Linked DNA regions of Homo sapiens. The protein of the gene in region 1 interacts with the protein of each later gene in a biochemical or structural test. Each region holds a gene or a part of one and is shown on either strand. Other genes may lie near its edges.

Region 1 (3,500 bases):
GCTTGGGGCTGCAAGTCTTAGGGGCTAGGGCAAGGAAAGAAAAGGGGATATAAATGAAGGATGGAGGCCAACTCTGTGAACCCAAAGTCCCCTAGTACTGCTCTTCCTTCCCTAGCATCAGTCTCCATCTGGCCCAGACCCTCAGCCATGGTCTATGTGCCTGGGGGTGTCAGGGGGTGGCTTTGGGTAGTTCCTAGACACTGTGTATCTGCGGTGGGGGTGGGGAGGATCCAGAAGCACATTTTACTGCACCCCTCCAAGTCCTCTAGGCTGCCTGTTCCTGGGAGTCAGGGTCAAAGCCTTTGCTATTCTTGGTTACTCTCATCAGACACCAGCACCCCCTGGCTTTGATGACAGAGTGATGGTGAAGGGGGGTGCATTTAGGCCTTGACATGTTTTCTCTTTGTCTTCCTCTAACTCCTACTACTAGAGGCCCCGAGCTGGTCTTATCTAACCTCTCTGCTTCCCTGCCTTCTGGGACACTCCTGGTCCCCTGACCCATCACCCCATCCTTCCCAACCCCTAATCACTAGGCCCCCAGATGGGAGCAGTGGGGAGGGATGCCCTTGGCACACACAGTAGTAGTTGGAGATGGTATTAGCAGAGGCACAGGAGGGCAAGGCTGGGCAGGAATGGGCAGGGTAGAGAGCCTTGCTTCCATTTCCATTCCCTATTTTTTTTTTTTTTGAGACAAGGTCTCACTCTGTCCCCCAGGCTGGAGTGCAGTGGCACAATCTCAGCTCACCGCAACCTCCACCTCCTGGGCCCAGGCGATTCTCCTGCCTCGGCCTCCCCAGTGGCTGGAACTACAGACATGCATCACCATGTCCAGCTAGTTTTTGTATTTTTAGTAGAGACGGGGTTTCACCATGTTGGCCATGCTGGTCTCAAACTCCTGACCTCAGGTGATCCACCTGCCTTGTCCTCTCCATTCTCTAAAGACACAGCCTCCCTTGGTTAGACCTCAGGGAGACTTTCAGTAGACATCCTTAGAGTTAAGAAGCACCTAAAGATTTTCAAGATATCAGAATTGGGGAGCAGAGGCAGGGGGATGGCTGAAATGAACTCTAGGAACTGGTTTCAGTCCAGTCCAACTAGTTAGCTACTATATTCAGGACCTCTTGGCCCTACCCTCCCACCCCAATCAGGCTTCTTCCACTCCTACCCCATTCTCTTCCCTCATCCCCCAAGGAGGAATTAAGAATGGTGACAACTAACTCTGTTGTTTTTTTTTTTTTTTTGAGACAGAGTTTTGCTCTTGTTGCCCAGGCTGGAGTGCAATGGCACGATCTTGGCTCACTGCAACCCCTGCCTCCCGGGTTCAAGTGATTCTTCTGCCTCAGCCTCCAGAGTAGCTGGGATTACAGGCATGCGCCACCACGCATGGCTAATTTTGTATTTTTAGTAGAGACGGGGTTTCTCCATGTTGGTCAGGCTGGTCTCGAACTCCCAACCTCATCTGATACATCCATCTCAGCCTCCCAAAGTGCTGGGATTACAGGCGTGAGCCACCGCACCCGGCTGACAACTAACTCTTATTGTGGGCTCAGTATGTGCCAGGAACTGTGGTAAAGCAGTTTTTTCCATGTATCATCATATTTAATTCCCTCCACAGTATGACAAATAGGGACAACTAATACCACCATTTCACAGATGAAGAAATTGAGCCAGGTGACTTGGCCAGGGTCAAATAGCTGGCAAGTGACAAAACCAGCTAAGCTGACTCCAAGCTCTGAACCAGTGAAATCCACACCAGTCCTCCGAATTCCCACTCCTCCCAACCTCTATCACCACATCCTCCACAGGAGGAACAGTCACCCACCCCTTCTCCCCCACCCAAGGCTGAGCTCCCAGTCTCCTGGCCTTTCGTGGCTTTTCCTCAGACTGTGCCATCACATTTCTATTCTGCTGGCACACACTGAAGGCCAGCTCTATGCCAGGCACTGCACTAGGCATCAGGGTGCCAAGGAGGGTGAGATGACCCTCTGCCCTGCAGGAGCCAGAGTCGCCTGAGAAGACAGCTGTACCCAACTAATGCAAATGCAGGGCAGAGACAGAAGTATAAGGAAAATGGCGGGGGGGGGGGGCTCTTAGGAGGGAGGGAGTCTGATGGGAGCCTCACTGAGATGTCTTCCCTCCTAACCCCCACCGCTGGCAGGGGAGACGGCACTCAGGCCCCTGGCCAAAATGACCGAGTTCAGGAAACACATCAAGGATGGCCTAGCCAGGCTCCCCCTTCAGCCTCCCTCCCCTGGCCCCCACCCTGAGCCTGGAATAAAGGCCCCTTGAGGAGGTGGATAATGCTGAGTTCATTGCCCCACTGGGCCAGCTGTGAGGTCTTCCCGGGAAACACAGCCCGCCAGCCTAGTTAGCATGCCGGAGAACCGTCCGCTTCCCCTGACCAGCCGTGGCCGGCTGAGGGGGAAGAGGGGGGCTGGAATGGGACTCAGAGGCAGATGAGATGTTTGGAGCCCAGAAACAGACCCCCGTGCCACCCACCTGGGACTTGGTCCATGCCCTGCTCCTCCCAGGGGCAGAGCGCACAGCCACGGCCTGAGGTCACCGGGTGGTCACCTAACCTCCCCTCCATTCCACATCCCAGCCATGGTGCCCCCTCCTTTAGCCCTCACTGAGTCCCCCCCGCTGTCCCCCACCCCCATTTTTGGCCTGAACTCCACAGAGGAAACAGCAGCTGGCAAACTCCAAAAGCTGGAATGAGAGAGATTCACAAACCAGATGTGCTCTTGCAGGGAGGGGATGGGGGATGGGACAAGTGAAAGGAAGAGGAGGGCCCAGGCCCCTATCCCACAGCAGCACCGGGGGAGGGGGCCACATCTCCCGAGGGCCTGGCCAGCACAAGGATTGCAGAGAGATACGTGAAAGAACTTCCTGTCAGGGCTGGTGTTGAAGGGCCCAGGAATCTGGAGCGAGAAGGCTGAGGCCTGTCTTTGATTTCCTTCAGGGGGAGAGGGAAGAAAGAAACAAATAAACTACTTTGGGACAGTCTACACAGCCAAGGGAAGCCTCACTCAGAGCTGGGAGAGAGCTGAGTTGGGAGCGGGGTAGGACCCTTATAATCTGCTTAGAGGGAAAGCCAACCCCACTCCCCTCAGCAGAGCCTTCTGTGTCTGAATCCAGCACCCAGAAAACCCACCTTTGTGGCCTGCAGTTTAGATGAGAGAACAACATTGCCCTAAGGTCAAAAGCAACTAAGGCCTTCCCCGCCTCCTGGCCCGCATGAGAGAACCCGGAGGTCTCCCTGACCGATGGGAGCTAACCTTTTTCACCTTGCTAACCACCAGCCACTGATTGGAAATACGGTGACTATTAACTCACTTAGATACTATAACCCTGTGAGGTGGGTGCCCTTGCGGCCCCCCTCTCACACATGGGGGAGCTGAGGCACAGGGTGACTGGTAACTGAGCAGGTGGTTTCCTCATAGGTCATGGGATGCAGCCGGGTTAAGAAAGGAAACCAGGCCGGGCATGGTGGCTCATGC
Region 2 (3,500 bases), on another chromosome or scaffold:
TGGGTTGTTGAGTTAATTGATGAACTCATAGATGACATACAATTTATCTTTTTATTCTTGTGTCACTTGTGCTTTTGATGTCACATCTAGGAAGGCTTTGTCTAGCCCAAGGCCACATTTACTTCCATATTTTCTTCTAAGAGTTTGATAGTTGTAGCTGTTACATATATGTCTATGATCTAGTTTGAATAAATTTTTGTGTATGGTGTGAAGAAGAGGTCTAACCTCTTTTTTATTTTTTGCATGTAAACATCCAGTTGTCCCGGCACCATTTGTTGAAAATATGATTCTTTTCCCATTAAGTCATCTTGACACCCTTGTTGAAAATCAATTGACCATAAATGTGAGAGTTTATTTCTGAACTCTCCATTCTGTTCCATTGACCCATACGTCTTCTATAAATTCTTATAGCTAATTCTACATTAGACTTTGGTTTTTCAGATGTGGTCATCTCATTAGATTATGGTGATATGTTTGGTTACAAGTTTTATCTTCTCCTTGGCAACATTTTTTTTATTACTGCTCTTCTTTTATTCGTTTTTGTTGTTCCTTTCTCTTTTTGTGAGACAGGGTCTCACTCTGTTGCCCAGGGTGGAGTAAGTGGTGTGATCATGGCTCACTGCAGCCTCAACCTCCTGGGCTCAAGCAATCCTCCCACCTCAGCCTCCCAAGTAGTGGGACTACAGGCATGCACCATCATGCCAGGCTAACTTTTTTATTTTTTGTAGAGACAGGGTCTTGCTTTGTTGCCCAGGCTGGTCTTGAACTCCAAGCTCAAGCAATCCTCCAACCTCAGCTTCCCAAAGTGCTGGGATTACCAGTATGAGCCACTGCACCTGGCCTTGTTGTTCCTTTCTTCCTTTTATCTTGTAGTATCTTGATCCTTTTTGCTTATTATTTATCATTGAGGTGAGTTTGTTCTAAATAAACTTTTCGCAGAAAGTTTATGTAGATATATTAATATCAATGAGGCATTAGGAGTGAGTTTTAGATTAGCAGGAATTCTCTTATGAAAGGTATTGATTGTATGTGTGAGTTTTCAGCCTTTACTTCTCTCCAGCCCATCAAGATCAAAGCTGCAGAGTTGTTTACATTTCAGAATTTCTTTCCTCCCCTCCCCACCTTGCAAAACAGACTTACAGTGCAAAAATGACTTGTCAATGTGATTCTTTCTTCTGGTCCCATCTTTCCTACCTTTTGAGACTTGTGTTGAAAGGAGTCCAGTAAAACCACCGATGCTAGCTTGTATACCCTGATCCCATTGTTATAATGAATGACTGACTGTTTTTCATATCAAAGTATAATACTTGCACCTTGATAGAAGAAAGAAACAAGGCCAGGCACAGTGGTTCATGCCTGTAATCCCAGCACTTTGGGAGGCTGAAGTAGGAGGAATAATTAGACTTTGATATTAAAAATGGGGAAGATATGGCGGTATAAGATATGAGGAAGTATGTCTTCTTGGACTTTTCTGAAATCTGCCAGCCATGAGCATCCACTCTTTTTATCTTTTGATACCTGTTTTATATTAACTATACTTCTATTTTGTGGTTTCATGGCTTCAGATATCTTCCAGCTTAATTGTACTCTGTCTTTAATTATTTGCAGCAATTTCTGAAAGGAGCAAGAAGAAAGGCCAGCCCTTTCTTCACTACCTTAAAAACTGGTCATCTTTTGAAACCCCATGAAAGGCACAGTGGGTGACCATCTACATCAGGAGTGGGCAAACTATGGCCCTTGGGTAGTCTGGTCTCTGTCCGTTTTTGTAAGGTTTTATTGGAACCCATACACACACAAACTGATCATCTCTTGTTATGTGTTAAGTTTTCTTATAATTATTCTTTTCTATTTCATCCAGCTGAATTACCATTTCACCTTGTGTATGCCCTTTCCAGTCTTAAATTATAGAAGCTATGTCTTTGTGGTTTTAAATTATGGAAGCTGTGCCTTCTTGTGTTTTAGTATGGCAAGATATTTGTTCTTACTTTTCCTCTAGAATCTGCAGTGGATTACTTTCAGAAGTAGGTATTGCCTCTAAGTTTCCTGACTTCTGTTTCCTTCTCCCTGTTCTGTAGTATATTTATAGATTGCATGTTTTCTCGTCCTTAAACAAGGTACAAATATGTTCTGATCAAGGTTTGCTAGCCGAGAGGATAAGTGGCTTGCTCTTAGCCTAACTCTCTGTCTACTTAATGGATGTCGAATTCCCTTCTCAACTCAACAGCTAGTAACTAGTTCCAAGATCGGATAATAGCTTACAGAATTAATTAGTTCAGTGAAAGCCCTGGTTTGATCACAGAGGCAGGAGACTGATCTATATATTTGTAGTGCTGACTAGACCCCAACTTGGCCAGATAGCTTATACCTATGTCAGAAGTTGGAGGAGGAGATTGACAGCTGAGGTGTCTCCAAGGGAATTACAATTATTTTCATTTTCTTTGTGTCTGTAATTATGTCTCTTTTCTTACTTCAAATTTTGTATATGTGAAATTTCTTAATTTTTATTTGGTTATTTATTTTATTGACTTTTTCATCAAACAACCAACTCTAAGTTCTTGGATTGAAATTTATGAATTAATTATAATGTTTTAAATTTACCATTAGTCACACATACAATACAAAAAGATATTTTCATTACAAAATTTTAACCCAAGCCATTAAAACTAAACTCCAGCTTGGTCACCATTCCTAATACCAGGCCCCTCTCAGAGGGGAGGGTAAATAAAAGTCCATTTTGGTAACTAGTTTGACGAGAATCTCTAATTGTTTCCCTGTTTTTCTTATAATGTCTGCCTTTGAATTATCCTCTTTTTTTCAAGAGTTCCATCATATAATGTATTCCTTTTTGCTTACAGATTGACCTCCTAGAGGCATGCATCCCCCTGCTCCAGTCTGAGCTGGTTCTCTCTAGGCCTGAGGCTCAGTTATCAACTTGGGACTTTTATTTACCCTCCCTCAGGATAGGTACCTGGTTCTTGGATACCAGGTCTTACTCTTGTTTGAGATACTCCTTTATTTTGGTGGCAAACATTCCATAATCACTTCCTGATAATGGTGACATTTGAGGTAGATTTTCTGAGTCTTTATATGTTAGAATATGTTTTTATTCTCCTTTGCCACTTGATTGATAATTTGGCTGCACATAGAATGTAAGCATTCACAGGGCTTTTGGGAGCAGCTTCCCTTGAGAAGAAGGTGGATGCAGTTAAGATCTTCCCTGAAAAGACTGTGTGAAATGACAAGGCTATTGAGGTACCCAACGGGTAGCTTGGTAAAGGTGTATCTTGTCTCTTATGTTTATGCATCTACTTTACCACCATGTAATTAGCCTATTATAACTTGTTGCATTCCTTCACTCAGCTAATCTTGTTCATGGTAGAAATTAATATTGCTAGTACCATGGTAGAATTTTATATTAGCTGGATCCTAGACCTAAATGCTCCTTCCTTGTGCTTACATATTCTGCAAGTGGGTGACAGTGGATGCTAGGTATTGTGTTA
Region 3 (3,500 bases), on another chromosome or scaffold:
TTCAGGCTGACTTGTTAAATATTGGCTGCAAAAATTCTTAAGGGCATTGATATCAGATAAAAAGCTCTGTGATGTGATCTCGCTGCAGACATTGCATTGCAAGCACTCTGGTCTTCTGTGAGGGAAGGGTACCAACCAGCTCCACTTGGGGGTGCAAGGAAAAGAGCAACGCAGAAAGGGGGAAGCCCCCAAGAGACATGAAGTCTTTAGAGAGAGCCTCTTGATGGGGTAAATGCGAGCAGAGACCTGGGACAAGCTGGCTTTTCATACCCTCACGGATTTCTGCCACTCAGCAGTTGAGTAACAGTCCTCCTCTGGCCACCCTATTCTAGATATGATTAAACAGATTTCTTGTAAAAGAACCAAACTATTTTCCTTTGTAGGAAAACAACAGAGACAGAGAGGAAAACAAAACAAGGATCCTGATGACTGACTGCAGGAGGCAGAGAAAGCCAGGATCCCTGGTCAGATTTTACCGAAGGAGAGGAGAGTCCTTCCTCGTCTACAGTCCTCCACCTCCCAAGCCAGAGTCCATTTGGAGTTTGTAGAGGTGCCAAGAGAAGAAAAATAGAGTCCATAGCAGGACAGCAAAAACTATTGTCAGGGTTTCTGAAAACTGTACCATGGAGTCTGAAAAGAACTATAGGCTATGGACTAAGAATAGCAAGGCCAGCCCTCAGTCAAGTGGACTTTCCCACTGTCCTACCACAGAGTGATCAGCGGCTCACACAAGCTAATGACACATTTAGGAATTAAGAGCGTCAATGCATACTAGCTGTCTGATAAAATTCCATCTCTTCCCTTATTTCTCTCTTTTTTCAACTTTGGCTTTCTAGGACTTATGTTCTAGCTTCAGTAAAACACTCAAGCTAGCCAAAATATTGGCAAGGAGCTCCTATGGCAGAAGTGCTCAGAGACTGATCAGGATGTGTGCCTGATCTACCCTTACCATACACCTAGGAACACAGCTGGGCCCAGAACCTAGGACTTTCACTCTATGACTTATTCTTGCTTCAGACTTAACTTACATCCTTCTTGGGCATATATTCCTTCTAAGAGGGCTATGTGTTGAAAGGACATAGGCCTTCGATCTATTATGGCAAAAGACATGGAAGACATGCATGTTGACAGACAAGCCTCTCTTATGTCAACCCTGTTTTGCTACTGAAGCTGGTCTGAGTTTAGAATCCCTTACAATTGTCTTTCAGGAAACCATGACCAGTTGGTTCAAGTAAGTACAATACTGAAAATGAATTTCTTGTCTCATGCTGCCTCGAGGAGCCAAATGTGAGTTACAAGTCAAGAATATCAAATGGATGTGGGGTTGTATAGTAGAAGTGGGAGAAGGGCTCCCTGGGATGCTCAAATCTTATGCTGTAAAACCCTCTGGGAGTATGAAATCTCTTCCGATGCATCATCATTTTATGAGCAAAAGCAAAAGAGTCATACTTAATTTTATCTCTAGGCACCTACCTAGACCCACCAGGGGCCCCACTGGGGCAGGAGCACTTGTTTTGAAGAGATCCAGAGGGTTGGGCTGCAGGGCTGTAGGTTGTCCTGTGGGTGACGCCTGGCCTGAAGGTTCTGAGACGGGAGGAGCAAAGATGTCTGATGCAAGCAAGTCATTGGCTGAAGACTGACAGGACAGGGAGGGAGGGAGAAGCCTTAGTTACTCACTAACAGTGAAATACAGCCTCATTTTGTCTCCTACCCTATACCCCAATTTGAGAGCCACAAAAAGGAAAACTTTTTTCTTGACAGATGAACAACAACAACTACTACTACAGAAAAAGAGTCCTCCAAAAAAAGACACAGATTCCTACAACGGACGGACTACTGAGTCTTAGTGTCTGACACTACCTAGGACTTGCAAAGTGAAATCTACTATATTCCTTTACACACTCACATTGGTCTGGTCTCATCGCTAAATGCTTGAAGTTGGGGGAGCAAGTGTGTAAAAGGGGCAACTACCAATAAGCATCCTAAATATTTTTGTTCATTCCATTGGATTTTAAGTCAGTCTACATAGAGATCATAGGGTCTTAATCCAGGCAAGCCTGTATATTCTTAGGAGAGGTAAAAAAAGACACCTATGGGAACTGCATTTTAAATTGCTCTTAAATAAAGCTGAGATCATAGTGGTAATAGTAAATACATAAGCTTAGAAAAAGCTTATGTATTTACTCAGTATTTAAAAGAGGAGATAAGCTCGAGAATTTTATACCACCACCATGGACACTGATGCAACATGATGGGTGTGCAGGGCATGTGTTAGTGTCAGGGAAGTACAAAGGGAATCACAAGAACTCTCACCCTCCCAACCCAGAACACGATGATCAAACTTACCAGAGGTATAGAAGCATAGCAGCATTAAAAATGGAAAAACTTGTGTTTAGTTTAATCATAAGTGACAAGACATGCACACGGAAAGCAGGGTGTGAAAAACACTGCTGAGAAGCTTAAAAACGGTGGCAGTTAGAGGAAAGTACTCCTGGAGAACCAAAGTGCCTTATCCCACCTTCTATTTCACAGCAACACAGGAAACTACGAGAGCAGCAGGAAAGAGAGCTTGCATCACACCACCCTTTGGTACCGAACATGCACTCTGCTAATGGATATGTGGAGAAGACAATTCACCTTAGCAGTCCTTCTGCCTCTTCCTGGTTTGGTACTTTGTGGAGGTGGGATAATGGCTATGGAGTCATGTGGTGAGGACTGGACAGAGCTTTCCAAGTCCTGCTTTACGCCATTCTGTATGGACAGTCCTTTGGGAGGGCTTCCCACAAAAGGGTTCGGGGAGGATTTGACAGAGAAGCCGTTCTGTTCTCTTTCAGATACCCCATTTTGAGTTCTCACTGCTGGCTGGGTTTGCGAACTTGAAAAGGGCCATGGGCCTGCCTGAGCTTCCTGTTTGCCAGTCCGGTTAGAGATCTGGTCAAATTGCTGACCAAAGTAGTCAACATCACCATTCAGGGGCCCATTACTCAGCGGAGTAGACGAGCTACTCGAATTCTCTTTCTTCTGATCTGGAGATTTGAGAGAATCAAACGAAGAAGGTGTCGATTGGTCTGGCTGTGTGAAAGGATCGTCACGGAAAGGATCAGGATTAGGGGTGGGAAAGAAGTTGAGATTGGCAGAAAAGGCATTTTCAGGCAAGAAGGATGCCTGAGGCGTTGGTCGAGGAAGAGAACAGGAGGTGATGCCGTTTGTTAAGAATGGATTTTCTCTTAAAGAATTCTGATTGGTGTCGATTTCAGAGTTTAGATCCACTAACAGGATATCTTTGCTTTCCTATCACATTTGGAAAGAAAAAAAAAGAAAGTGTTAGTCCATGTTGTGACTTCAAATGAGAAAATTACATAAGATGACTAGGATTATCAGAATTTCCATTTGAATTTGGTCTTGATAAATCGGTTGATCATTACCTCCTTCCATCAACCCCCGTAGTCCATTACTCCCTAGCTATAGACTAGGTCCTTTCTATTCCTCCCCAATATCAT
Region 4 (2,452 bases), on another chromosome or scaffold:
CAGAACAAACCTGGAAAAAACAAAAACAAAACAAAAGACATCAAAAGCAAAACCTCTCCAAAGACAAAAACTCTGCAATCTTTTTCGTCACTCTTCACCAGGTCATAATAGAGTAACGCCTCAAGAGATTTCTTTTTAGTTTTGATAGAACAATTTATTTGAAAAAAAAATCTGTGAAGAACCTGGCATATGGATTGCTAGGTAATCAGGGAGTATATGTGTGCATGTGATATGTATGCGTACTTTGGGATACAGTAAACAGACAAAGAGGGACATTTGGGGTTGGATGGAAATAGCGATTTTTCATTCTTTGGGCTTTTCAGTATTTTTTATTTTCCTTCAAAGTGTAAACATCAATGTAAAATAAGCTTTTTTTTTCAGTTTGAAAAAGATACTCCACTCCCTTGTATATGCACAGTTCTGAGGCTCCTTCTCAACAATGCTTCTTTACTTTGTTCTAATTTTCTAGATGGTGATAGTAGCCTGGCTGCCTCAGAAAGAAAAGCTCTGCAAACAGAAATGGCACGTATCAAAAAGTGTAAGCTTTTTCTCTTACTCTCCAGGCAGCTTGAAGTTTGGGAAAAATAGAATGCAACAAATATTTGTTGAATGCATATAATTTTCTGTACCCTGCTAGGCATTTCTCATATTCTTACCTCATGAAATTCTCACAACATTTTGGTAGAAATGGAGGCAAAGGGAAGTTAAATTACTTGTTCAAATGCACAGAGCTAATAAATGGCAGGGGTGGTTTATAGATGGAAGTCAGTCTGACTCGAGAGACCCTAATCCTTTACCGTCTGATATTGCTCACTGAAAATGGGACTTATATCCCTTTGTTGCACTGGTATTGAGACCTGGCCGTGGGGTCTAACCTGCCTGGGGCAAATATTTTCAGACATTTTTTGTTTGGTCTCAAGTTAACAATTTAGAATTCAGAAGTCCAAATTATATGTCTTTTAGAATTCTGATCTGAAAGCACAGAGAGGCCTTTGTACCAGTCTGTCTGTTCACATTTGGGTTGCCATATTTAACAAATAAAAAGACAAAGCACCAGTTAAATTGGATTTCAGCTGAAAAACATTTTTAGTATAAGTGTGTCTGAAAAATTATATGGGAGATATACTAAAATATTCATTGTTTGTCTGAAATTCAAATTTAACTGGACATACTATATTTTATCCGGCAACTGTACTCTAGAAGACTTTTTCTTGAGAAATACCTTGAGTTGGGCTTAAGGATGAGTCAGTTTCACCCACTTTTTCACATTTTAGGGCTCACCTTCTCTCTGGGCAAACAAGTTGGGAACAAGTTCTTCCTGACCAATGGTGAAATAATGACCTTTGAAAAAGTGAAGGCCTTGTGTGTCAAGTTCCAGGCCTCTGTGGCCACCCCCAGGAATGCTGCAGAGAATGGAGCCATTCAGAATCTCATCAAGGAGGAAGCCTTCCTGGGCATCACTGATGAGAAGACAGAAGGGCAGTTTGTGGATCTGACAGGAAATAGACTGACCTACACAAACTGGAACGAGGGTGAACCCAACAATGCTGGTTCTGATGAAGATTGTGTATTGCTACTGAAAAATGGCCAGTGGAATGACGTCCCCTGCTCCACCTCCCATCTGGCCGTCTGTGAGTTCCCTATCTGAAGGGTCATATCACTCAGGCCCTCCTTGTCTTTTTACTGCAACCCACAGGCCCACAGTATGCTTGAAAAGATAAATTATATCAATTTCCTCATATCCAGTATTGTTCCTTTTGTGGGCAATCACTAAAAATGATCACTAACAGCACCAACAAAGCAATAATAGTAGTAGTAGTAGTTAGCAGCAGCAGTAGTAGTCATGCTAATTATATAATATTTTTAATATATACTATGAGGCCCTATCTTTTGCATCCTACATTAATTATCTAGTTTAATTAATCTGTAATGCTTTCGATAGTGTTAACTTGCTGCAGTATGAAAATAAGACGGATTTATTTTTCCATTTACAACAAACACCTGTGCTCTGTTGAGCCTTCCTTTCTGTTTGGGTAGAGGGCTCCCCTAATGACATCACCACAGTTTAATACCACAGCTTTTTACCAAGTTTCAGGTATTAAGAAAATCTATTTTGTAACTTTCTCTATGAACTCTGTTTTCTTTCTAATGAGATATTAAACCATGTAAAGAACATAAATAACAAATCTCAAGCAAACAGCTTCACAAATTCTCACACACATACATACCTATATACTCACTTTCTAGATTAAGATATGGGACATTTTTGACTCCCTAGAAGCCCCGTTATAACTCCTCCTAGTACTAACTCCTAGGAAAATACTATTCTGACCTCCATGACTGCACAGTAATTTCGTCTGTTTATAAACATTGTATAGTTGGAATCATATTGTGTGTAATGTTGTATGTCTTGTTTACTCAGAATTAAGTCTGTGAGATTCATTCATGTCAT
Region 5 (3,500 bases), on another chromosome or scaffold:
CTACACAGCAATGTAAATGAACTACTGCTGTACAAAACAACATGGTTTAATCTCACAGACAAAATGTTAAATGAAAGACACAGACGAGTACATATTGCGAACTTCTGTTTATAATTCAAGAACTGGCAAGAACTGTTTACTGTGTTAGAAGTCCAGGTAATGGTAACCTATAAAAAGGAAAAAGGGTGGAATGATTGGGAGGGGGCATCTTCTGGGGTATTGATAATGTGCTATGTATTGGTCAGTTTAGTGTTTAAACAGGCTCATTTACTTTGTGAAAACTTACACTAAAATTGTGTGTATTTTTTGAATATATGTTATACATTAATAAATAGGGTTTTTAAACCTGTAGTTCATAATTTAGTGAAAGTAGAATATCCAAACATTTAGTTTTAAACCAATCAATTATAGTGCTACCATCATTTTTATGCATTATTGAGAAGTTTATTTTACCTTTCTTTCCACTCTTATTTCAAGGCTCCAAAATTTCTCTCCCCAACGTATATTGGGGGCAACATGAATGCCCCCAATGTATATTTGACCCATACATGAGTCAGTAGTTCCATGTACTTTTTAGAAATGCATGTTAAATGATGCTGTTACTGTCTATTTTGCTTCTTTTAGATGTAACATGTAACATTAAGAATGGCAGATGCGAGCAGTTTTGTAAAAATAGTGCTGATAACAAGGTGGTTTGCTCCTGTACTGAGGGATATCGACTTGCAGAAAACCAGAAGTCCTGTGAACCAGCAGGTCATAATCTGAATAAGATTTTTTAAAGAAAATCTGTATCTGAAACTTCAGCATTTTAACAAACCTACATAATTTTAATTCCTACTTGAATCTGCTTCCTTTTGAAATCATAGAAAATATCAGTAGCTTGAATTAGACCAATTAATTTTCTAGATTGCATCATATTTTAAATATAAACTATGTAATCATCTACAACCTGAATTCTTTCTGTGTCCAATTTGTCCAATTTTTTTCTCTAACATTTATATCACAAAGCAATTAATTTGTGTGATTTCTGCATATGTATTTGTAATTCATCAAGTCAAATCAATGTAGTAATACTATATCATAAAATATACACAAATAATTGAGTGATAGGCTTCTAGTATAAGGACGGTAAGTTTGAAGCATGATTCTATCTGGGCTGGCTAGTTTACTCTGAGAAAGTTATTTTTTATTGTTGGGTCTTAAGCTGAGTTTACACACTTGGTGTCAGAATGATTCCGGCAATGAACTGTTTTATGTTCTGCTAGGCTGATCAGCACAATCTATATGGCTGTGAACAAAACAATGTTTCCCAGTCATGCCAACCATGCCACCATTTTAACAGCTGATTAGTGTATTCAGAACATCTCCACTCCATGTTCGTATGGCTGTTATCTAAAGATGAAAGCAGTAGACACTTTTATTTTTTGAAAAATTTAGGCTCTGCAGGGTCAATTATATTTGATAAATGAGGGGCTTTTTTGAAGCAAACTAGATATAATTTCTTTTGCATTTCTAAAGCCTGATATCTTATTAATTGGTACATTAAATTGTGCACCATTTCTCTGTAACTGTTTCAGTACCTGTCTCAGCACTATACCAGGCAGAAGAAATTAAAGAAAGAACCAGTGCCGAGATCAGCTTGGTCAGGGAGACCCTAATCCTGCGGCACTAGAGGAATTAAAGACACACACACAGAAATATAGAGTATGGAGTGGGAAATCAGGGGTCTCACAGCCTTCAGAGCTGAGAGCCCCGAACAGAGATTTACCCACATATTTATTGACAGCAAGCCAGTCATAAGATTTACTGAAAGTATTCCTTATGGGAAATAAAGGGATGAGTCTGGCTAGTTATCTGCAGCAGGAACATGTCCTTAAGGCACAAATCACTTATGCAATTGTCTGTGGTTTAAGAACACCTTTAAGCAGTTTTCCGCCCTGGGTGGGCCAGGTGTTCCTTGCCCTCATTCTGGTAAACCCACAACCTTCCAGTGTGGATATCAAGGCCATCACGAGCATATCACAGTGCTGCAGAGATTTTGTTTATGGCCAGTTTTGGGGCCAGTTTATGGCCAGATTTGGAGGCCTGTTCCCAACAAACCAGAAGCTAGGAATATATATCCTGCAAATAAAATGAAGAATCTCTAAGGCTTCAGGGCCTGCCCACTTGTTCTTCTGCCTGGTTCTTCACATACACTGTCTCAAAGCTAGTCTACCTTGAGAGGAGCATGAATATGTGTGTGGGTGTGTGTCTGTGTATTTTAACCTTAAAAACCTAACTTCCAGTATAGACAGATGGCATACTAGCTAAACCCTTACAAGTTCTTCTATGCTATAAAAGAGAAACAGAATTGAGAACCACCTCCAACTATTAAGTGTTATATTTGAATATAGCCTTAGCTTTAGCAGAATAAGTAGGCCAAACTTAAAATAAGCTTTTCTGCCTTTTCAATGATAAAGGTCCCTTTTCTGTAGCCATTGTTGATTGTGTACACTTATACATAAGTATTTTGAACTAATTTCCTGTTTTCTCAACCACTTGCTGTCTTCATGATACTTTGTCGCAGCTGGTTGCTATAGAAATGTCTGTTACAAGGAATGTGGCTTGAAGGAAAGTGATAAATGAAAATGAAATGTGAAGTGACTTTGTTTGACTACAAATTCCCATTCTGGTAGTCCCCAGTGTATCAATACATTATTTTTCTTTAGAAAATAAACCAACCCAAGGAAAAATGGTGGGCAGGTCCTGGTGAATATGGCTGTGATAATTATATTAGCAATCTCTTTGGCTAATATTTGAAGCCCAAATAATTGAATCACAATGATCTCTCCCCAGAAAATATATAAAATGCACCTTGGAATCTAGAAGGCCTTTTAGTCTGCAAAAGAAACCTTCTTAATCATAAGCAGCAGAAGTCCCATTTACCAAATTGGAAAGTTAAAGTTACAAAGCATCAATCATAAGACTTCCATTCAGGGATGGCAATTGGGAGTAAGACTTTTTAGTAAAGAAACTAAACACAAAGTCATTAGACTCTGTAAAAGTCTTACCAAATTTGATTCTGGAACACCTATTCTATTTCCGTAAAGATGATGAATTCCGGAGCCAAATGTTCTTTTCATGAAGGATTTGAAAACTGTCCATGAAAATAACGCAATCAACCTTTTAGCTTGAGACTCTATTCACTGATTAGATTTTTTTAAATACTGATGGGCCTGCTTCTCAGAAGTGACAAGGATGGGCCTCAATCTCAATTTTTGTAATACATGTTCCATTTGCCAATGAGAAATATCAGGTTACTAATTTTTCTTCTATTTTTCTAGTGCCATTTCCATGTGGAAGAGTTTCTGTTTCACAAACTTCTAAGCTCACCCGTGCTGAGACTGTTTTTCCTGATGTGGACTATGTAAATTCTACTGAAGCTGAAACCATTTTGGATAACATCACTCAAAGCACCCAATCATTTAATGACTTCACTCGGGTTGTTGGTGGAGAAGATG
Region 6 (3,500 bases), on another chromosome or scaffold:
CTCCTCAGTGACCTTTTTGCTGCCCTTGTCCTGCTGTCTACCCTCCCCAGCAGCCTGGGACCATGCCCATGGCCGTTCCTTCCTGCCTTTTTGCCCTACCCTGCAAACTTGATCTTTGCTACTTTTCTTCTTCCTTTCTGTTTTTGGAAAAGACCATTTATATATTTTCTTTGGAGAATGTCTATTCTGATCCTTTGCTCATTTAAAAGTTGGATTGGCTTTTTACTATTGAGTTCCCTCCTTTCTAATAGTTTTATTGAGATGTAGTTCACATACCATACAATTCACTAATTTAAAATGTATAATTTAGTGATTTTTAAGATATTACAGATCTGTACTACCAGCACCACAGTCAATTTTAGAACATTTTCATCACATTAAAAAGAAACACTAGGCTGGGCGCGGTGGCTCACTGCTGTAATCCCAGCATTTTGGGAGGCCAAGGCGGGTGGATCACTTGAGGTCAGGAGTTCAAGACTAGCCTGGCCATCATGGTGAAACCCCATCTCTACTAAAAATACAAAATTAGCTGGGCATGATGGCACACACCTGTAATCCTTACCCCCTGCGTCTTCCCAGACCTGAACAGCCACTAATCTACTTGCTGTCTCTAGATTTGCCTATTCGGGACATTTCATATTTATGGAATTATACAATATGTGGTCTTTTGTGTCTGACTTCTTTGCCTTAGTGTTGTGTTTCAGGGTTCATCTATAATTTATCAGTACTTAATTCCTTTATATGGCTGGATAATATATCATTGTATGGATATACCACATTTGGTTTGTTCATTCATCAGCTGAGGCACATTTAGGTTGTTTCCATTTTTGCCTCTTAAAAATAATGCTATAAACATTCATGTACAAGTTTTTGTGCAGGCATGTTTTTATTTTTATTTTTTAAAATTTATCTTGGGTAAAAGTAAAATGGCTGGGTCCCATGGTAACCATGTGTGACCATTTGTGGGACTTCCAATGTGGCTGCATCGTTTTACCTTTCCACCAGCAGTGTGTTCATATCTTCACCAATGCTTGTTGTCTGACTTTTTGATTCTAGCCATCCTCCTGGGTGTGAAGTGGGATTTCATCATAGTTTTGATTTGCATTTCCCTTTTGAACAACATAGAATGTCTCCTCATTCCCTAGGAAGCAGACTCAGAGAAAAAAAAAAAGACCATCTTTTCATGTGTTTTTTGGCCATTTATATATTTTCTTTGGAGAAATGTCTATTCTGATCCTTTGCCCATTTAAAAGTTGGATTGGCTTTTTTACTATTGAGTTGTAAGAGTTCTTTATATATTCTGGATTCAAATCCCTTATATAGATTTGCAATATTTTTACCCATTCTGTGGTCTTTTCACTTTCTTGGTATTGTCCTTTGAAACACAAAGTTTTAAATTTTGGTGAAGTCCAATTTTTTTTCTTTTTCCCTCATTTTGAGATCCATCTGCCTTCCATGTCCTGTTAGTCTGCCCTTGTCCTCTTAATTATGCCCTTCACTCCCCACCCCCACCCTGGCACAGTTACATCTCCTGGGCACTGGCTTACTCCTCCCTGCCTAAGAGTATGCTATGGCCTTCCCTGTATGAAATACCTCTTCTTTCCACCTCTTTCTTTAATTAACATGTTGTCTTTCTCCTCCTTTCACAGCTAAGCCTTGTGAGAGAGTACTCCACCCTCTGCAGTATCTCAGTCTTCATTCAGTCCCTGGCCACTTCCTTCCAACTTCTGTCCTGGCTGCTGTACTGAAATTGCTCTGCTGCCCCCTTCTCTATCCTCATCCTTTTTGACTTTTCTTCCTGAGCTGCCTGTCCTAGTCCTCTGTGGAATGCCTCATTGGGCTCTCTGTGCCTGCTTGCAGTCAGCCAGCCCCTTGCCCCTGCCCATACCTCCTTCTTTTGTGGCTGTTCTACCTCCTCCCTTTGCCCTCTACTGTGAGTGCTCCATTCCCTCTCCTTTGGATTCTATCTACTCCCACTCTTCTGTTATGCAGGCTGCTGGCTCTCTACTTCAGTCCAGACTCCACATCTTTATGCGCAGCTTCCTGCTGGTCATCTGTACCTGAATGTGTTGCTGTCCCTATCACTCAACAAGCTGGAAATCAAATTTCTCTTCTGACTTCATTGTCTTTTAACGACCCCACCATCCTCTTGGGCACATGGGCCTGACACTTTAAAGTACCCCTTGTATTCTTTGATTTAACAGCCAACTCAAATTTGCTGTTTACTGGGTACCTATGATGTCCAGGCTCTACTCTCCTGTACCCCACATCAAGTTAGGTGCCAAATCCTCTTGAATGTTCCCAGTGACATCCATCCACCCACCCTGGCTGGTCCATCACCCGTTCAGATGCTCCACCCCCTCCCCTGTTATCAGGGCCATCAATAACCTTCTGAAGGCCTCCAGTGTCCCACTTGTTCTCTGATCCCCCTCATCCCTTAAACTTTTGCCCTATCAATTTTCTTGAAATGGTTATCCTCCCACTCAAAAACATGAAAAGTTTCTGTACCTACTATATTAGAACCAAAATTCTTAGTATGATATTCAAGGCTGTTTTTGAACAATTCCCTTTAATCACCCTGGGCTTCAACCCAACTGTAGTACCCACCATTCCCTTAACCCTCACTGCAGTTTCCCACCCCGTTCACAAGTCACTCTGTGAAGTGGATGTTACCAGTCCCACCTGCTTTGTATTAGAGCTGCTTGTCCTGTCCAATTTTCATCCCTACATTGTCATTGTCAGGGTCCATGTCACTCTGCCCCCGTGTCTTCCACAGCCCTGAGTACAGTGCCTTGCACATAGAAAATGTATTTTGAATGAAAGAGATGATCCCTATAAGATGGCCAGGACCCTCCTGGGTCACCCAATGGTGAGAGGTGCCTTAATTGACTCTCCACTCCTCCCCACCATTTCTCTTGCTTTAGTCTAGTAACTTCCGGTTCCCAGTGGCTTGAGGGACCCCCCAGCATGGCCTCTTTCTGATACCCCCAATCTCACACAGTGCTGATTCCTTCCAATGAAAATACCAAGTAAGCATTTTTTTTTCCTGAATTAAATAAAATTCCACTGATGGATGTCCAGTGGAATTAGAATCTGAATATAGAACATATGGCCAATTTCAGGAGTAGGTAATTGTCATTTCTCAATTGTCATTTATGTAAGAAACATTTTCAACTTGTTTTCTCATTAATGAATTGATGTCTTTTTTTTTTCCTAATTCATGGTTTATTTTCTGTAATTTGCTACTTTGCAATTTTTATGACATGAATTTGGTTGGTAGCATAGCATGGCATGAATTCAGGAGCCAAACTGTGTTTGGGTTCAAATCCTGGCTCTATCCCTCACTTGCTACTTGACTTTGTGTGAGTTATGTAACATCTTTCCTTTAGCGTTCTCATTTGTAAAAAGAGGATACAAATATCTCATACTTCGTAGGGTTAATGGGAGGATTGAATCAGTAGTACCTGTAAATGGCCTAGCACCGTGCATGACACAGAGTT
Region 7 (3,500 bases), about 55 Mb from region 1:
GGAGAAACCCCGTCTCTACTAAAAATACAAAATTAGCCTGGCGTGGTGGCACATGTCTATAATCCCAGCTACTCGGGAGGCTGAGGCAGGAGAATAGCTTGAACCCGGGAGGTGGAGGTTGCAGTGAGCTGAGATCACGCCATTACACTCCAGCCTGGGCAACAAGAGCTAAACTCCGTCTCAAAAATAAATAAATAAATAAGTAATATATAGTTAGAAATTGAAATAGCTATTCCATGACCATCTACTTGAGCTTTCGTAGATTTTAAACTTTCCTTCCATAGCTTTTTTTTTTCCAAAAGTATTCATAATTACCAAAAATGCTTCCCAGTTACAGGTTTAATACGTGTATTCAATCACTGACAATTCTGTAATTTGCAACTTGCTTATCACTAGCAAGGAGCAGTTAGAGTTCATTCGACCCTGAGAACTTAGTAAGAGAAGATAAAGAACAGTGGAATTAATAAAAATCTTAATGTATAGGGCCAGCCTCAAAGGTTATAAGCGCTTGTATATTAGTAAGTGAGGCAAAAAAAAAAAAAAAAAAAAAGACAACACACAGCTTGAACTCCCCATCTCACACCTAGCATAATTTGACACAATAGGGCTTAGTTTAAAAACTGAACCAACAAATGAAACCTGCAATGTAAGTACATCCATATAACCTGGAAGGAGGGGAAGTGGCAAAACGGTATGGCCTCATTTGAGTTTATCAACAAGTTTATTACAATTAATACAGAATGATTACAGTTAATTACAATTAACACAGAGGGTCCAGATAAGATGAGAAGAGACAAATAAATTTCCAGTCCTCAACATGTATATAGTAGGCACTTGATCAATGGCTGCTGAGTGAATGAATTTTGATAGGAGTAAAGGATAAAAAGACACTGATGGGCTAGGCACAGTGGCTTATGCCCATAATGCCAGCACTTTGGGAAACTGAGGCAAGAGAATCACTTGAAGCCAGAAGTGCAAGTCCAGCCTGGACAGCATAGCAAGACCCCGTCTGTATAAAAAATGAAAAACTTAACTGGGCATAGTTGTACGCACCTGTGGTCCCAGTTACTTGGGAGGCTGAGGCAAGAGGATCACTTGAGCCCAGGAGTTTGGGCTTCAATGAGCTATGATTGCATCACTGCAATCCAGTGTGGGTGACAGAGCAAGACCTTGTCTCAAAAAAAATAAATAAATAAAAATAAAAATAAAAAAACACTGAGGGGAGGGGGTAGAGAGTTACAAGGAGAGGGAAGTAAGCATCCTTCTCCTCATCTTGCTCATTCTAACACCTGCAAAACCTGCCAGCCCCTGACAATCCCTTCTAACCAGCCATCATCTGGCATTATCTATATCTATATCTATATAGATATAGATATATAGATATATAGATTTTTTTTTTTTGAGACAGAGTCTCGCTCTGTCGCCCAGGCTGGAGGGCAGTGGCACAGTCTCGGCTCACTGCAACCTCCACCTCCCGGGTTCACGCCATTCTCCTGCCTCAGCCTCCCGAGTAGCTGGGACTACAGGCACCCACCACCAGGCCTGGCTAATTGTTTGTATTTTTAGTAGAGACAGGGTTTCACCATGTTAGCTAGGATGGTCTCGATCTCCTGACCTCCTGATCCACCCGCCTCGGCCTCCCAAAGTGCTGGGATTACAGGTGTGAGCCACCACGCCCAGCCTATATCTATATTTTTTTTTGAGACAAGGTCTCACTCTGTCACCCAGGCTGGAGTTCAAAGACACGATCTCGGCTCACTGCAACCTCCACCTTCCAGGTTCAAGCAATTCTCCTGTCTCAACCTCCCAAGTAGCTGTGACTACAGGCATGCACCACCACACCTGGCTAATTTTTCTATTTTCTGTAGAGACAGGGTTTCACCCACGTTACCCAGGCTGGTCTCAAACTCCTCAGCTCAGGTGACCTGCCAGCCTCGGCCCCTCAAAGTACTGGTATTATAGGTGTGAGCCACCACGCCCGGCCATTATCTATATTTATTAAGGATCGCTGGCCAGGTGCAGTGGCTCACACCTGTAATCTCAGCACTCTAGGAGGCCAAGGAGGGAGGATAGGTTGAGCCCCAGAGTTCAAGACCAGCCTGAGCAACATAGTGAGACCTCGTATCTACAAAAATAAAATAAATAAAATAAAAAAGATCACACAGCCCAGGTAGGTACCACTCATCTCATAGAAAGACTTACACACACATACACACACACACAAACCAGCACTTGGGGAAAAGAGCCTCAAATCAATGTCTAAAATAAGCTCCAGGGCCTATTACACATGACCCCTGTGTTGAGTGGGTTTTAAAAAATGGGAGACATAATTTGTGTCTGTAAGAGTTTACATTTCTCAGCAACAAAAAGAGGAAAAAAAACAAAGTTTTGGCCGGCTGCGGTGGCTCACACCTGTAATCCCATCACTTTGGGAGGCTGAGGCAGGTAGATCACCTGAAGTCAGGAGTTCAAAACCAGCCTGGCCAACATGGTGAAACCCCATCTCTACTAAAAATACAAAAATTACCCAGGTGTGGTGGCGCATGCCTGTAATCCCAGCTACTCAGGAGGCTGAGGCAGGAGAATCGCGTGAATCAAGGGGGCAGAAGTTGCAGTGAGGCAAGATGGTGCCACTGCACTCCAGCCTGCGCTACAAGAGTGAAACTCTGTCTCAAAGAAAAAAAAAAGAGTTTACAAACCTGAACTATCTGTCAGGAAATCACACCCGAAATCTGAATGCAGATTCTGCAAAGGCTTTACTCTTTGAGGCTAGGGACTTATGTCAAGTGAGTTTTAAAAAAAGATGCTGATGAAACAAAAAGAAAATACAATGATGCTGAATATTTTGTTTTATCTATGCATCCCCCTCCTCCAGTGATGTGGGGAAACAGTCAAGCTGGCCAGTAATTTCAGGAACTTCATCTCAAGGCTGCTATACTGAGAAAGGAGGTTTAGGCTGGGGGCAGTGGCCCATGTGTGTAACCCCAGCACTTGGGGAGAATCGCTTGAGCCCAGGAGTTCCGACCTCATCTCTATAAAAAAATCAAAAAATTAGCTGAATGTGGTGGTGCACGCCTGCAGTTCCAGCTACTCAGGAGGCTGAGGAGGGTGTATCCCTTGAGCCCAGGAGGTTGAGGCTACAGTAAGCTATCATTGCAACATTGCCCTCCAGCCTGGGTGACAGAGTGAGACCTTGTCTCAAAAAAAGAGAGGGGTGGAATTTAAACTAGGGATCCAAAGTCTAATTTCAGGGTGGGAGGGGTTTGAGGGATGAGAAATTACTTAATGGGTACAATGTATGTTATTCAGGTGCTGGTTACACTAAAAGCCCAGACTTCAATGCTGGATAATACATTCATGTAATAAAACTGCACTTGTAACCTTTAAATGTATAAAGTCTAATTTCAGTTTCTTGTATACATATAAATTTATATCTTTCTTACCTGCTACTCCAGAAAAATTATTATATTTGTTCTTGGGGAATAAGTTTATAGTTTGTT

What was found.
Region 2: the proteins of LRP1 (region 1) and F8 form a complex in vitro, tested with the Homo sapiens proteins (one study listed by BioGRID).
Region 3: the proteins of LRP1 (region 1) and DAB2 form a complex in vitro, tested with the Homo sapiens proteins (one study listed by BioGRID).
Region 4: the proteins of LRP1 (region 1) and MBL2 form a complex in vitro, tested with the Homo sapiens proteins (one study listed by IntAct).
Region 5: the proteins of LRP1 (region 1) and F9 form a complex in vitro, tested with the Homo sapiens proteins (one study listed by BioGRID).
Region 6: the proteins of LRP1 (region 1) and NOS1AP form a complex in vitro, tested with the Homo sapiens proteins (one study listed by BioGRID).
Region 7: the proteins of LRP1 (region 1) and PTPN11 form a complex in vitro, tested with the Homo sapiens proteins (one study listed by BioGRID).

Annotation. Positions count from the first base shown.
Region 1 is NC_000012.12:57,134,983-57,138,482, reverse strand, and holds part of LRP1 (prolow-density lipoprotein receptor-related protein 1 preproprotein), read right to left. Parts: intron 25-3,500; coding exon 1-24. UniProt on the Homo sapiens protein: Endocytic receptor involved in endocytosis and in phagocytosis of apoptotic cells. Required for early embryonic development. Involved in cellular lipid homeostasis.
Region 2 is NC_000023.11:154,932,224-154,935,723, reverse strand, and holds part of F8 (coagulation factor VIII isoform a preproprotein), read left to right. Parts: intron 1-3,500. UniProt on the Homo sapiens protein: Factor VIII, along with calcium and phospholipid, acts as a cofactor for F9/factor IXa when it converts F10/factor X to the activated form, factor Xa.
Region 3 is NC_000005.10:39,379,981-39,383,480, forward strand, and holds part of DAB2 (disabled homolog 2), read right to left. Parts: intron 3,292-3,500; coding exon 2,638-3,291; intron 1,637-2,637; coding exon 1,474-1,636; intron 1-1,473. UniProt on the Homo sapiens protein: Adapter protein that functions as a clathrin-associated sorting protein (CLASP) required for clathrin-mediated endocytosis of selected cargo proteins.
Region 4 is NC_000010.11:52,767,333-52,769,784, reverse strand, and holds part of MBL2 (mannose-binding protein C precursor), read left to right. Parts: intron 1-469; coding exon 470-538; intron 539-1,274; coding exon 1,275-1,648; 3' UTR 1,649-2,452. UniProt on the Homo sapiens protein: Calcium-dependent lectin involved in innate immune defense. Binds mannose, fucose and N-acetylglucosamine on different microorganisms and activates the lectin complement pathway.
Region 5 is NC_000023.11:139,547,739-139,551,238, forward strand, and holds part of F9 (coagulation factor IX isoform 1 preproprotein), read left to right. Parts: intron 1-624; coding exon 625-753; intron 754-3,323; coding exon 3,324-3,500. UniProt on the Homo sapiens protein: Factor IX is a vitamin K-dependent plasma protein that participates in the intrinsic pathway of blood coagulation by converting factor X to its active form in the presence of Ca(2+) ions, phospholipids, and factor VIIIa.
Region 6 is NC_000001.11:162,076,191-162,079,690, forward strand, and holds part of NOS1AP (carboxyl-terminal PDZ ligand of neuronal nitric oxide synthase protein), read left to right. Parts: intron 1-3,500. UniProt on the Homo sapiens protein: Adapter protein involved in neuronal nitric-oxide (NO) synthesis regulation via its association with nNOS/NOS1. The complex formed with NOS1 and synapsins is necessary for specific NO and synapsin functions at a presynaptic level.
Region 7 is NC_000012.12:112,425,447-112,428,946, reverse strand, and holds part of PTPN11 (tyrosine-protein phosphatase non-receptor type 11), read right to left. Parts: intron 1-3,500. UniProt on the Homo sapiens protein: Acts downstream of various receptor and cytoplasmic protein tyrosine kinases to participate in the signal transduction from the cell surface to the nucleus. Positively regulates MAPK signal transduction pathway. Dephosphorylates GAB1, ARHGAP35 and EGFR.